2 separate regions of the Homo sapiens genome follow, and region 2 is linked to region 1. The links come from fine-mapping of genetic effects on gene expression. A gene starts in region 1. The other region holds a variant in brackets. All regions are shown on one strand. Distances are from middle to middle. Region 1 holds the start of RASAL1 (RAS protein activator like 1). Region 2 overlaps DTX1 (deltex E3 ubiquitin ligase 1).

The links.
Region 2: its variant is fine-mapped to the expression of RASAL1 in whole blood (TOPMed, PIP above 0.99).

What each region holds. Positions count from the first base shown.
Region 1 is chr12:113,134,336-113,137,240 of GRCh38, forward strand. It overlaps RASAL1 (RAS protein activator like 1), which reads right to left and starts at 1,426. Exons shown (of 21, transcript NM_001301202.2): 1 at 1,063-1,426. The coding sequence starts at 1,127. RefSeq lists a silencer at 1,413-1,552.
Region 2 is chr12:113,088,236-113,091,140 of GRCh38, forward strand. The region is part of intron 3 of DTX1 (deltex E3 ubiquitin ligase 1); the gene reads left to right. Among named protein-coding and RNA genes, the nearest start is that of DTX1, 33 kb to the left of the region's middle. The variant CAGG/C (reference allele first, on the strand shown) is at 1,312.

The sequences.
Region 1 (2,905 bases):
GGAGCCCACACCTTGGGGAATCAGCACAGAGCTAAGACTGAATCTTGACACAGGTGAAGGCTCCCAATCCATGCTCCTGCTCACCTGGGCCACAGGGGAACTCCTAACAGGTCCTCCACCCTCCCAGCTGGATGGGAGACCCCAGGCAACCAGATGGGGACTCCGGTCCAGAGCTCTCATTGCCCAAATGGGAAACCAAGGCCCAGAGAGAAGCAGGTTCAAGGTCACACAACAAATGTCCTCCAGAGGATCCCACACCTGTCGCAGGTGCTAAGGCCCTCAGAGCCCCTTCTGGGCACTATGCCAAGCAGGAGGGGGAACCCGCCCCCCATATTCTGCTGATTCAGCAGCTGCTGACTCAGCCCTGGGGGAAGCATAGCTTGGGACTAGTAGTGAAGGGAGCCGTAGGGTCCCCCAGTCCCATTGCACCTGGCTGGGGAGGGGGTCGCAGCAAGGAATTGGCTCTTCAAGCAGCTCAGCACCCGGGGAAGGCCCACACGAGGCTGGGAGCCACAAGACTGGGGAGCTCAGGGCTTGGGGTCAAAAGGACCCTGGAGGGCCACCTGGTGACACTCTGCAAACCTAAGCACCAGATCCACACAGGATGTTAGGGCTCATCTGATCCCAGGCCCTCTCCAAGGGTCCTCCCCAGGGTTCCCTTGCTAGGCCCCCACCCACGCCTGGAGGAGCCACCTCCAACATCTGCCTGGACTAAGGAAGAGACCCCCCGCTTTCTCCCCTCCCAGATCTGACAGAATATGGCCCTCTAATCCCCTCTTCAGCTCTGGACGACCCCCTTTAGTACATCCCGGGAACAAAGACACCCCCTCCCCTGCCCGGGGGTGAGGCGGGGCATCTGCTAACTCTAGGCGCCCCCCTCCCACCGGGACAGCCATGGGCATGCGGCCTCTCGCCCCTTTAAAGCGGAACTGCCCCAAGACCAGTCTTGGACAAGAACCCCTCGCCCTCCTGCCAACCCGCCCTGGCACGCGGAAAGGGCGACGTCGGCCCCACCCCAGGCCTTGCGCGCCCCTCACCCAGAAGCGCCCGAGGAGTACTCACACGTCCTTGGCAGGCAGCGCGCGGCCCTCCACCACGCGAACATTCAGGGAGCTGCTCTTGGCCATGGCGCCTAGCCACAAACTTTCCAGGCAGAAGGGCGCTCAGGTTCCGAGGCTGGACCAGGGGACGTCTACATGTCACCTGCTTCAAGCCTGGCTCCCTGCCTCGTGGTCCCAGTGCCGCCTGTCCGAGACCCGGGTAGCTGGATGGGAGATTTCCGAAAGAGGAGAAGGTGTAGGTGCCCGGGGAGGGAGCGCCCGTCCGGACTCTACAGGTAGGAGCCGTGCTCCGAGCAGGAGGAGCGCGCAGGGGGCGCAGCGGGCTCTTGCCGAGGCGTCTGGAGCTCCAGACAAGCAGGCTGGGCGGGCAGGGGGCGGGAGGGGCGGCCCAGGGACCTCCCCACAATCCCGCCTCCAATGGGGTCCCCCACCTGACCCCGGGCCCCCTCGCGCGCCCTCTACCGGCACCCCAGTCATGCGCGCCAGAGCGCACGGGCGGCGGAGACAAGGGTGCACCGCCAGGTGGGGAGGGGCCCCCGTCCTGATGGGCGTGGCCGCTGGCTCCTGGTGAGTTGGCATTGGGCTTAAAAGACATGGTCTGTGCCCCCGCCTGTCCCTCATCCAACATATTCACACCTCTCCGCCCCCACCCCTCCTTGCCTACCATGCAGACACCTGCCTCCTCTCTCCAACCTCCGCGCCCCCCGGTCCAGGAGCAAGTATTAGTGGTGGGTGGGAGGCGTCGCCAGAGAGAGGGTCGCATGTTCCCTGGGGGTCCGTTCAGAGTCAAGGGAGGGGCCTTGAACATCCCCTTCCATCTCGTTCTAGTTTCCAGTTAAACACAGAACCCAGACTCTGCTCTAACGTCACGGGCTGGCACTGCGGGGGAGGAAGCCGCGGCCAGATGGGGGAGGGGAAGGCTTGAAGATAACCACTACAGCGATGATAAAAAGTCATCTACAGTTGTTTGAACACTTCATGGGTGCCAGGCACTGTTCTAAGCGCTTTACTGGGATTAGCTCATTTTTGTCTCCAGATGTGCACTACACACTACTCCACTGTTACCCCATTATCCGCAGTTTATGGATAAAGAAACTGAGGTTCAGAGGGATTAAATAACTTGGCAGAGGTCTCACAGTCAGTAACTGATTTGCCTTCCAGGGGTTCGAATCCTGGCTCTGCCATTTGGTAGCTGTCTGGACTTGGGTAAGCCATTCAACCTCTCTGTGCTTTGGTTTGGTTTTCTCATCTGTTGAGTGAGGATGACATTGCATTTCAGTCACAGGATTTTGAAAGAATTAAAAGAGTTAATGAAGATAAAAGTCTCAGGACAGTGACAAGTACCTAATACACGTCCAGAAAGTGTTTGATATTCTGATTGTTGTCCTTTGAGGCGTGGGCCACGCGTCACCTCTCCTGGGAAGGCTTCCAGGATGCCCTTCCACTCCGGTAGAGATTTTCTTTCCTTTCTCTCTGCTCCAGTGGCTCCAGGTTTGTACATTTTTCTGATTTTAAATGAGATAATATGACAGGCAGGGCCTGTCCCAGAACAGATCCGTTCGCACACTTATTTCTCCCTGTGAATTCATTGTTGACCTGCCCAAGACCTCTTAGAAAGGCCAGGCACCAATGGGAGTGCCCCTGCAGACTGAGTGCGGGAGCCAACGCCCAGACCGGTGAGACCAGGAGTGCCCTTCCTGGATCCGTCAGCAGCCCAATGGTCTGCTTCCCAGTCTCCCTTCTTGACTCCCCACCCAGCAACCCAGACAGGCTGATGAGGAACTCAGAGCCCTGGAATTCCTTCCCCAGCTGGTGGCTGCCTGGTGAGTCTCTGACCCACCAGA
Region 2 (2,905 bases), 46 kb before region 1:
TTCATCTCATGTGCCATCTCTGCTCCAGGGCAGTGACTTCCTGGAGCACTGTGTTGAGGAGGATTCTGAAGTTGCATCTTGGCTTAGCGGTAAGGCATGCCGAAATTGATTAGTAATGCCTGCTGTGGGTGCTAGGAGGACAGTAGTGGTATGCACTCATATATTTGACATTCCTGCTCTAACTTTGTCTGGCAGAAGAGGCGGCGTGGACCAGATCATACAGGGCCTGGTCATGCTTAAAGAGGGATAACATTAGGAGATATATCTAATGTAAATGATGAGTTAATGGGCGCAGCACACCAGCATGGCACATGTATACATATTTAACAAACCTGCACGTTGTGCACATGTACCCTAGAACTTAAAGTATAATTTTAAAAAAAGACTATAATGTCAGGTCGTGATTAGTGCTATGAAAAAAGAATTCAGTAAGGTAAGGACAAAGATGGGCTTTTTAAAAATAAAGTGGTTGCGGCCAGGCACAGTGGCTTATGCCTGTAAACCCAGCACTTTGGGAGGTCGAGGAGGGAGGACTACTTGAGCCCAGGAGGTCAGGTCCAGACCAGCCTGGGCAACACAGCGAGGCCCTGTCTCCTCAAAAGTTTTGTTGTTGTTGTTGTTGTTGTTGTTTAAGCTGGGTGTGGTGGTGTGTGCCAGTAGTCCCAGCTACTCAAGAGGCTGAGGTGGGAAGATCGCTTGAGCCCAGGAGTTCAAGACTGCAGTAAGCAATGGTTAAGCCACTGCACTCTAGCCAGGACAACAGAGCAAGATCTTGTCTATAAATAAATAACTAAATAAAGTGGTCGGGAAGGTGTCTCAGATAAGCTGACATTTGAGCAGAGACCTGTGCTAAGTGAGGGAGTGTGCCATGAGGATATCTGGGAAGAGCACCTTGGGAAAGGGTCAGCAAGTGCAAAGGCCCTGGGGTGGGAGTGTGCCTGGCATGCTTGAGAAAGAGCAGAGAGACCAGGGTGGCTGGAGTGGAGTGGGAGAGGGGTGAACACATAGGAAATGAGGTTCAGAGGGTAGATGGGGGCCAGATCAGGAGGCCAGGTGTTAACTGTGAGCAAAGTGGGAGCTGCAGGAGGAGTGAGAGCAGAGGACAGATGGGATCTGATTTGGGACTGGGAAAGGCAGAGAGGCTTGCATGGCAGTGGGGCCCATGCCTGCCTTCTGGTCAGAGTAGATTTCGGGGAGGGCCTGAGGGACTCCTCAGGTCCTGTGCCAGCCTGGGCCCCCAAGAAGGCAGAGCTAGGGGTGAAGGCTGGCTCCCCTTCCGGGAGGCCCGCAGGCAGCGGTCGCTTGTCCAGG[CAGG/C]AGGATGTTCTCACTGACTCGGAGGAAACAGCGTGTCCCACATCAAAAGGGGGCCGGGTGGCTCCCACGCTCAGGGTTCGTGGGAACTCTGCTACCCTGGGTTCTCGCAGGAGGCCTGCAGTTAGAGAGAAGCTGGAGACTACCTCGGGACTGTCCCCCAGGCTCACTGATGGGTAAATAAATAACAGTCCCACAGTGACACCCCACTCACAGTGCTCTTCCCAGGAGCAAGACTGACTTTTGTAATCTAGGGCTATGTGGTATTTAAGGGGCTCCAGAAATTTTAGGGCAGCTGAGATCTAAATCCTTCCCTTCCTGGAGTACCCTCTGTCTAACTCCTAGACCAAACACTCAGCAAGAGCAGGGTTACCCACTGGGCCAGACTGGGCATTATATAGACCTGGGGTAGCAAACTGGCTATACTGATTGATAGAGGCTGCTTGGAGAGCTGTACTGAGGACTCTGCTAAGCTTGAGAGAGTGCTGTGATGGATTAGTGATGTCTGCCACAGGCAGGAGACCAACCAGTGGTGGTATGCATGCTCAATATTTTTCTTTCCACCCAATTTATAGGTAGTCCTGGAGAAAAAAAGAGATACTTTCTTCTTGTGAGGCAGAAAGGAAGAAAGAGGGGTGAGGCAGACCTAGACTTAACCAGGTTGTCTGCACTAGAGGTGCTTGAAGAATGGGCAGGAAAGAGGAAAAGCTTGAGGGAAATGCCTCTATGCATTCCTATAAAAGTATAGAGAGGGAGGAAGTTAGAGTGGTGACAGCTGCCCCCCTGAGGAAGGCCCTGGAGGATTATGACAGACCCTGAGAAGGGTCAAATGAATACTCAGTGCCCCTCTTCCTGGGGCCCCCCCGCAGGGTGCCCGACAAGAAAATCAAGACACCTCCACTCTCATCCCTGCGCCAAATGATGAGCTTTACATGTTTTAGCACATTTAACTTTCACAGGACTCTATCCCCATTACAGGTGGGGAAACTGAGGCACAGTGCTTTCTTCCCACCTCCACTGACCAGGTCCTGGGGGACCCAGGGTACCCGCCATCCCATCCTGCCTCCCTCGGGAGCTGTGTTCATTGACTTCCATCACACCGGCGCCTCCTCAAGGGGCTCAATCCAGATGTCTGCTCCAGACCTCTCCACAGCCCTCAGAGGGGTCTGGGATGGGAGTCCTGGCCACGTGATACTATCCTGTATAGCCGAGCAGCCACCAAGTGGGTGTGTGTGCGCTGCACCTGTGTGCATGTGTGATTGTGCCTCTGCATGTGTGCAGGTGTGGGCCTCCCAGGCTGAGTGTCTGTGTGTCAGTGTCAGGAGGTGTGGGTCAGAGCATGTGCGCATGTGTCCTCGTGTGCAGTGAGTCAGCGTGTCCTCCTGCGCCCCCATGCATGATGTGAATCAGTACGCACGAGTACTTCCCCACAGGCGGTGCGGAATCGTGTGTCCGCGTGTGGACGGCAGGCCGTTCTGCAGGCTGCAGCGCGCCGGGGGCTTGTAGGGCTGAGCGCATGCTCCTCTGGGTTTGCTGCCCACCTTACCCAGCTCTGTGCAGCTGGGGAGAGGGGCGGCAGTAGCAGGTGCGGTAC